2 separate regions of the Homo sapiens genome follow, and region 2 is linked to region 1. The links come from fine-mapping of genetic effects on gene expression. A gene starts in region 1. The other region holds a variant in brackets. All regions are shown on one strand. Distances are from middle to middle.

Region 1 (4,405 bases):
TTTTATTTAATGTAATATATCCAACATATTATAATTGCAAATTTGAATTAGAAAAAAAACAACTCTGTCTTTAAAAGTTGATATGGGTTTTACACTTATTTAAACTAATCACATTTCCAGTCTCAATAACCACAAGTGGCTAATAACTATCATAACGAATAGTGACACCTGGGTGCGATGGTTCACACCTGTAATCCCAGCACTTTGGGAGGCCGAGGCGGGCGGATCACCTGAGGTAAGGAGTTTGAGACCAGCCTGGCCAACCTGGCGAAACCCCGTCGCTACTAAGCATATACAAAAAAATCAGCCAGGCGTGGTGGCGTGCACCTGTAATCCTAGCTACTCGGGAGGCTGAGACAGGAGAATCACCTGAACCCAGGAGGCCGATATTGCAGTGAGCTGATATTGCGTCACTGCACTCCAGCCTGGGCGACAGAGCTAGACTACGTCTCAAAAAAAAAAAAAAAAAAATGACGCTCCAAAGGATTTTATCATTCGTACTCTAAAAACTGACATCTTTTTAACACACCTACACGGTCCACCATGGTCTGGCACCTGCCTACCTTCCAGCCTCACCATTACAACTATCCCCGCTTCCTTCTCTACTAACTACATAGACCTTCTTGTAGTTCCTCTAGTTCCTCTAACAAACCGTGCTCCCTGTAGACACTGGGCCTTTACACAAGCTCTTTCCCAGTGGAAAGTGCTCAATGCCTGGGGGTCTACGATGCTTCTCAAAGGTGTTCTCTTCTATGTCTGACCTATAGAAAACCTCCACATATATTTGTGTAACATATAAACTGATGGCCTAAATATACTGCGAAGAGAAGCACAACAACGGTAAATTTAATCTTTATTAAAACAGCTACCATTTCTCGAGCCTACCGTGTATCACCTCATCTAATCTTCACAATAAGCCCAGTAGATAGGTCTGATGAACACCATTTTACAGTGAAGAAACAGGTTCTGAGAGGTAAGATCCTCAGCCAAGAACACATTGTAGTAAGAAATAAGGACTTCAAACACAACTCTGACTCCAAAGTCAGTTCTCTAAACCAGTATGTTATACTTGTCCACAGAACATTGGCTTCTGGGCCTAAAATATTAAAAACTAAAACTGAATAAAGTATTATAGTCACCAAGTTGTACGCACTAGTTTCCGTCGCTGTGGAGGGACCTATTTTCTCCAACTAAAAACAGTAATAGCTCCCACTTACTGAGGGCTTACGTAAGACACTGTTTAGCGCTTTACTTACATAGATGTTTTCATTTATACCCGCATGATACCCCACTGAAGTCGGATCATCTCGACTTAACAGGAAAAACTGAAGCTCAAGTAAATTTTTCTGGCGAGGAAATACAGTCTGTCAATTTGGGTACTGGAAGCAGCTTTCCCTGCTCGCAGTCCGGGGATTGCTCAAGGTCTTCGAGGCACCGCCACAAAGGCGACACTCTCATAGTTATCCCGACTGTTTCCCTGAAGACGCAGGCCTGGCCTGGCAGGGCACGAGTGCCATGAATGGGTCTCAGGACAGTGGCTTTTCGGTCCCCCGTCCTCGCTCCCTCAACACCTGAGGGCTCATCACCCCCGTGAAGATATATCCAATAATTAGGAGCCTTCGACTCATTTTCTCAGGTTCCCCAACTCCCCGTCGCCCGCAAGTTCTAACAATATTTTCTTACCCAGCCCCGCCGCAGCTAGCCCCAAGTCCATCCGACAGAATCCAAGCCAATCTCGTAATGTTTACTTCCGGCTTTTCGCCTAATTCCGGCGGCCACTGCGGTAACTTCCGGATGACCGGCACATGCGCACTAATTTCCTGGCGGGGCCGGGGGCGGAGGGGGGCCCTCCAGTGCTCCTGCGCCGTGGGAAACGCGAGAACTCTAGCTGCTGCGTATCGCGCTATTTACCCGGCTTGTGGGGAGTTTCAAGTTGGGCGGCTACTTTTTGGCTTCTATTTAGGAGCTTTCTTTTAGAATCGGAGAATTTTAGGAAGTTAAAAAAAAAAAAAAAAGACCAGAACAGACAAGAGCTTAAGCCTCACCAGGGGACTATGAAATGAATGGGGAAGTTGGTGACGTATCAGCTTAAAAAAAAAAAAAAAGCAGTTAAACTTGGCACTAATTAGTAGCCAGGCTGTGTAACATGCTGGGGATTTGGTGAACAGTGTCTTCCCTCAGATTTACATCAGAGTGCGAAAGACACCGAAACAACTATTCAGATTTAGCAGCTGTGAAAAGTTGCTATGAAAAGAATACCAGGTGCTGTGAGAACATAAGGCATGTTATCATTAGAAAAAAATACGACAATTTCCATTTTGGAGAAACAGTATCTATGCTATCCCATCCCTTCTTTAAAAGTATACATGTGAAATAAAACACTGGAAAATAAACTAATTTTCGTGGTAGAATTTCTTGTGATTTTTTTTTTTCTTTGTGCTTTCTATTCTGGTTGTTCTCCCCCTCCCCCCCATAACGTGTATCCTTTTTGAATGTAAAAGTAAAAGTAGCTACCATTCCTGCCTCAATAAAATAGCCCAACATAATAGAATCTATTTTTTTCGTATTAAGAATTTGCAATACCTGGAGTTTAGGAACATAAATATTAATTTTGCTTTTACAGGGCAGTAGATGAAGAAACAGTGTCAGAGACTAGCGTGAAAGTGAATAGAGTCTATGAATCACTCAGGCTTTGTTTTTTTCCACTTAAAAATATTCCTGAAATTTGCTTAGGAGTGTTAAGGCCTAATTAGCCAAAACCACCAGGAGAGCGCATCTCGAAGAGGAATCAGAAAGCGCAGGACAAGACAGTTGAATCTTTTCTAAGACTTGAGGTCCCTCTGGAGGGTTCTGAGGAAGGTCTAGGAAAGCCGGGATTGGTTCTGGATGGGTTGCTGTTTGTAAAGAAGGATTGGGAGAAACTGATTAGGGACTAAGTGCTGTTATGAGTGAGGGTGGTTTAGCAATTGAGTATTTCCAGTAATAGGAATAGCAAAGCTGGTCTGAGGGCATCATTAGTAAGAAAACAGTGGTTATTCAGAGAGGGTGGTTATGGTTTACAGCTGCTGCATGACCTTAGGAGAAACAATGCTTTCTGTTGGTGAAAAAAAGAAGACATCCTAAGACAAACCTTGCACCTCAAAACCTCTGTAGATAGAGAATCCCCACTTGGAAGCTATAGGTGTTGTGCAGATTTAGTCTTAAAAATTAACACTTTGAGTGCTGATAATATAATATGATGATGTAAAATTTAGGAGATACAGGAGGAAATAAAGGATGGGGATAAAGGAAAAAGAACAGTGAAGGGACAATAAAGGTATGCATATTTTTCTGTCTTTCCTCTTTTCTTCACCTTAAGTTAGGCTCTTTTCTTATAACCTAGTATAATGTCCAGCATTTAATAGGTATTCAATAAATATTTGTGAATGAATGAATCATTCAATCAATATTGGTCCTGAAATGCCAGGGAAAAAGAGATGATGAACTGGCATATATTGAGAACCATGTCTATGTCAGGTATAGTGTCAAGCCTTTCGTGAAAGAGTAATATGGAATCAACTCCTCTCTCTCAGCTGATCTGCAGCTTAAAATGCATATATGGTGAACTGTGGGAAGCGGAGTTTGAATGACACAGGTCAGCCTTATGTTTTAATTTATATCTTCATCTTGTAGTTGTTCAATGTATTCCATTTTACTATAGAAACAGGAAAAGGTCGTCAACTTTTTCAAGCAAAATTTCTTTTCATATCTGGGAAATTGGAATTCCTTTTTTATATCTTTATTATCTCTCTGATATTCTCTTGCTCCCTGGCCAAGCCCTTCCAGGCAACTTTGGTTAATATATTATTGAGATGTTAGAGGTTTAAAATAAATCACTATCAAAGGATAGAATTTTAAGGGAAGACTAAATTATGTATTCATTAGAATCATAATTTTGTTCCTAAGACAGATTCGTGATGGTATAATAGAAACAGTGTCTTAGCCTGAAGTATTGAGGATAGTCCTAAGATTAGGGAACGATCAGTTCGTTCTTAATCATAAGCATAAGAGAATGACTCAAACGCTGCTGTTTGATCTACCTGTACTTACATTTCTTCTTAATTTTAAATTCTTCTCTGCTAGTATTCTTTAGACCCAACATTGGTTGTTTCCCCTATTTCTTCAATATTTCTATTTATTTTCCATCCTTTTTACAGGGTCATCTAAATAAAAATATCTTAAAGCAATAAACCATTGTTATTGAGTCAGTACCTCAGTCCATGCAGCTTAATAATATGGAGAGCAAAAAAAAAAAGCCTCTCGATTTATTTTTTAATATTACACGATCCTAGTTTTTTCTTCCCAGAAAACGTGCCACAAAGTTTGCAAGAAAGAGCTTTTGGGGCGGAGCCCTGGCTGCTTAGGT
Region 2 (4,405 bases), 36 kb before region 1:
CAAATAGGAATTCTTAATGGAGGCTTTGGCAAATGCCAATAGGAGAACTGAAGCATTGACCTCTGGGGTGGTAGAGAAAATCCACACCCTCTTCTGTAGATAACTATTTTTCTCCTGAGAAATAGTCACTGATTTGATACTAGGCATCTAACCATGGGATAGGGTGCTATTTGATCCAGCAAGCCATAAATTGGAGTGAGCATAGCAGCAATCTATCCTCAAGTGGAAAGAAGTACAGAAGAAACAAAGATTAAGCAGATTTGGAAGGCACAAGCAAGTTGCCTGAGTAAGTGGCTTAACACCATTGACACCTACTTGTGTTGCAAGCCTTCTTTTTTCTCAATCCATAATTTAGGCTACATGGGGAGTTCTTTATGACCAGCTGACTAGCAGGAAGAAATTTAGAACTGGTTTATAATTTATTCTGACCAATATGCTGGTACAAGCTGGTTGCTGCAAAATCTATTGCAGCATTACAACCCGGATCAGGTATGTCTTGGAAAGATCCTAATGAAGGGAAAATTTCCTAGAGAAAATTTTGAGCAGTACATTTGGTTCTCTACTATGTCTGAATTGAACAATATCCAAAAGTATGGATCTAAACTGCAGTAGTCAAGGGAAGTTACTAATGGTTTGATGGACGATCAGGGACTTGGAAAAAACAGATTGAGAAGATAAGTGACAAAAAGGTGTGGGGGACAGGTATATGAATGGACCTCTTAGAATAGGCAGAGAATTAAAGATAATTGTGCTCCAGATGGATACTTACCAAACGATGTTGTGTGCCCATGAGAATGCACTTTGCAGCTGTCAACTACAGGCAACATAATTAACCAGGGTCCCCAGAGGCTGAAATTAATGCACTCTGAATTTCATCACTGTACTTGTGCCAGTTCACACTTCCTGGGAGCTCTCCCCAGCAAATGTCTGAGCGTGGCAGGAATACTTAGCCACGCCTATTGCTGGAATATATGGGTCTCTTGTGACAGCTGACTTTGGCTTGAGGTCTTCTGGACTGCCTTGCTGAACCTAAACTAACACAGACATCCATCCACTGCAGAGGAGGCTCTCAATAAACAGTAAGACAAGATGACACTCTTTCACATAGACCAATGGAAAAGATAAAAGAACCCAGAAATAAATCTACACATTTATAGCCAACTCATTTTTGACAAAGGCACCAAGAAAATAAACTTAGGAAAGGGTGGTCTCTTTAATTAGTGGTGCTGGGAAAACTGGATATCCACATACAGAAGAATGAAACGAGATCTCTTTTACAACATACAAAAATCAACTAAAAATGGATTAAAGACTTAAACCTAAGTCCAAGAACTATTAAATTACTAGACAAAAACATAGAGAAAACCCTACAGGATACTGGTCTGGGAAAAAATTTTTGAATAAGACCTCAAAAGCACAGGCAACAAAAGAAAAATAGACAAAGGGATTACCTTAAATGAATAAGCATCTGCACAGTAAAGGAAACAATCAACAGAATGAAAAGACAACCTACAGAATGGGAGAAAATACTTGCAAACTATCCATTTGACAAGAGATTAATATAATAATAAAAGAACAATATATAAAGAACTCAAGCAACTCAATAGCAAAAACTAAATAATCCAAATTAAAAATGGGCAAAAGTCCTGAATAGATAATTCTCAAAAGAAGACATAAAAATAGCCAACAGGTGTATGACAAAATGTTCAACATCACTAATCATCAGGGAGATGCAAATCAAAACCACAATGAGATATCATCTACCCCAGTTAAAATGTCTATTGCCAAAAAGACAAAAAATAATAAATGCTAGTGAGGATGCAGAGAAGGAGAATGCTCATATGTTGTTGGTAGGGATGTAAAGTGGTACAGTGAATATGGAGAACAATGTGGAGGTTCCTCAAAAAAACTAAAAATAGAACCACTATATGATCCAGTAATCCCACTGCTAAGTATGTATCCACAAGAAAGGAAATCAGTGTATCTGCACT[T/C]CTGTGTTTACTGCAGCACTATTCACAACAGTAAACATATGGAACCAACCTAAGTCTCCTTCAATGGATGAATGGATAAAGACGTGGTATATATACACAATGGAATATTATTTGGCCTTTAAAAAAGAATGAAATCCTGTCATTTGCAGCAACATGAATGAGACTGGAGGTCATTATGTTCAGTGAAATAAGTCAGGCCTAGAAAGACAAATATCACATGTTCTCAGTCATATGTGGGAGCTAAAAACATGGATCTCATGGAGATAGAGAGTAAAATGGTAGTTAGCAGAGGCTGCAAAGAGTAGGGTGGTGGTGGTGGTGGTGGGCAGGGGAGAATGCAGAGAAGTTGGTAATTAAGTAAAAAAAATTACAGTTATAAAGAAGGAATATGGGGCTGGGCATGGTGGCTCACACCTGTAATCCCAGCACTTTGGGAGGCCGAGGTAGATGGATCACTTGAGGTCAGGAGTTCGAGACCAGCCTGGCCAACATGGTGAAACCCCATCTCTACTAAAAATACAAAAATTACCCAGGCGTGGTGGCAGGTACCTGTAATCCCAGCTACTCGGGAGGCTGAGGCAGGAGAATTGCTTGGACCCGGGAGGTGGAGGTTGCAGTGAGCTGAGATCTCACCATTGCACCCTAGCCTAGACAACAAGAGCAAAACTATGTCTCAAAAAAAAAAAAAAAAAGGAATATGTTATAGCATTCAATAATACAGTAGGGAACCTATAGTTAACAGTAATTTATTGTATACTTCAAAATAGCTAGAAAAATTGTAATGCTCCCAACACAAAGAAAAATGTTTGAGGTGACAGATATTACAATACCCCGATTTGATCACGACATATTGTACACATGTGTAAAACTGTCACATGTACACCCCAAATATGTATAACTCTCAAATATCAGTTTAAAAAAAGAAAAAAAGATGACATACTCTGCGGATATCAGATGGCCTCTTTCCCCAAAATTCCCAATGACTGCCCAATAGGTCCATGTACAAGAGAGGCCATGCTGGCAAGGATGGAGACTTACATTTAGGCTCAACAACATGGACTTCCTCTCACCAAGTTTGATATGCTGAGTGCCTGACCTGCCAACAGCAGGGACCAACACTGAGCGCCTAACATAGGTACTTGGTGGCAGGTTGATTACAGTGGGCACTTTCTATTTACTGTCACTAGAAAAGATACATATTCTGGATATGACTTTGCCTTTATTATCTCTGCCAGCCTTATTAACTGTCATGGTATCATGCATCACATTACTTCTTATCAAAGATTAGCAAAGGGGTATGTATTAGTCTGCTTGGGCTGCCACAATAAAATGCCACAGACTAGGTGAATTAAACAACAGAAATTTATTCCTTACAGTGGAGGGTGTGAAGTCCAAGATCAAGGTACTGGCAAGGTAGGTTTCATTCTAAGGCCTCTTCTCTTGGCCTTGTAGGCAGCTGCCATCTTGCACAAATCTCTTGGTATCTCTTCTTCTTATAAGGGCACTAATCTCACGGGACCAGGGTCCTGCCCTCATGACCTCACCTAACCCTAACACCCTCCCAAAGGTCCCATCTCCAAGTACTGTCATATTGATGGGGGGTTAGGCCTTCAACATATGAATTTGGGGGGGAAACATTCAGTCCATAACAGAGTGTGGCAATAGACTGATGCCCATGGAATTTATTGGTTTTGTCATGTACTTCATCACCCAGAAGCATCTGCTTTGTTAGAATGATAGAATGATTTACTTAAGACTCAGTTACTTGCAACTGAGAGAAAATAACCTAAGAGGATTAGGTTCTATTTCACAGGATGCAGTATGTGCTTTGAATTGATAACCAAAGATATGTAACCCTAACTTCCAAGGTCAAAATATGAGCCCAGAAATCAAGGAGTGAAAGTGGGAGTGGCTCATTTTACTATTGCACCTAATAATCCACTCACAGAATTTGTGCTTCCCTTTGCTGCATCTGTGAACTGTTATTTTGGCAGTCTTGTTTCCCAAGAGAGGAATGCTTCCACCAGGGGATATAACAGTGGTTCTAGTGAATTGTAAGTTGAGACTGTCACTGATCATTTTGGGGTTGTGCTATGAGGATGAATTCCAGTGGGCCTGAAATTGGCCTCAGCTGTTTGCATAACACCAAATCCTGGTCAAGGCATAATATATCCTGATTAATAATATTGTTTTGTAACCTTATGTATGAGGAGTTTCAGGGTAGTTTGTACCAGTTTGTCAACACTGTTTATTGTAATAGTCAGATGAATGATTTATACCTGGAGACCTCTGTCCCTCCCGCTGTTCTCCTTCCTCCAGGGACACAAAAACTTGGTTGCTGGGGCTGGTTATGTGCCAAAAATACGCCTGTGTGAACAGCAGGGTGTAAGAAACCCCAGCTGAGGCTCCATTTT

What was found. PIP is the estimated chance that this variant, and not a neighbour inherited with it, causes the effect. A credible set is the group of variants that fine-mapping cannot tell apart.
Region 2: its variant is the best candidate, but not a certain one, in a credible set for the expression of SLU7 in testis (GTEx, PIP 0.56).

Annotation. Positions count from the first base shown.
Region 1 is chr5:160,417,340-160,421,744 of GRCh38, forward strand. It overlaps SLU7 (spliceosome associated SLU7), which reads right to left and starts at 1,742. Exons shown (of 16, transcript NM_006425.5): 1 at 1,684-1,742. RefSeq lists enhancers at 1,454-1,503, 1,954-2,073, 2,084-2,153 and a silencer at 4,351-4,405.
Region 2 is chr5:160,381,646-160,386,050 of GRCh38, forward strand. No RefSeq gene overlaps it. Among named protein-coding and RNA genes, the nearest start is that of C1QTNF2, 13 kb to the left of the region's middle. The variant T/C (reference allele first, on the strand shown) is at 1,992.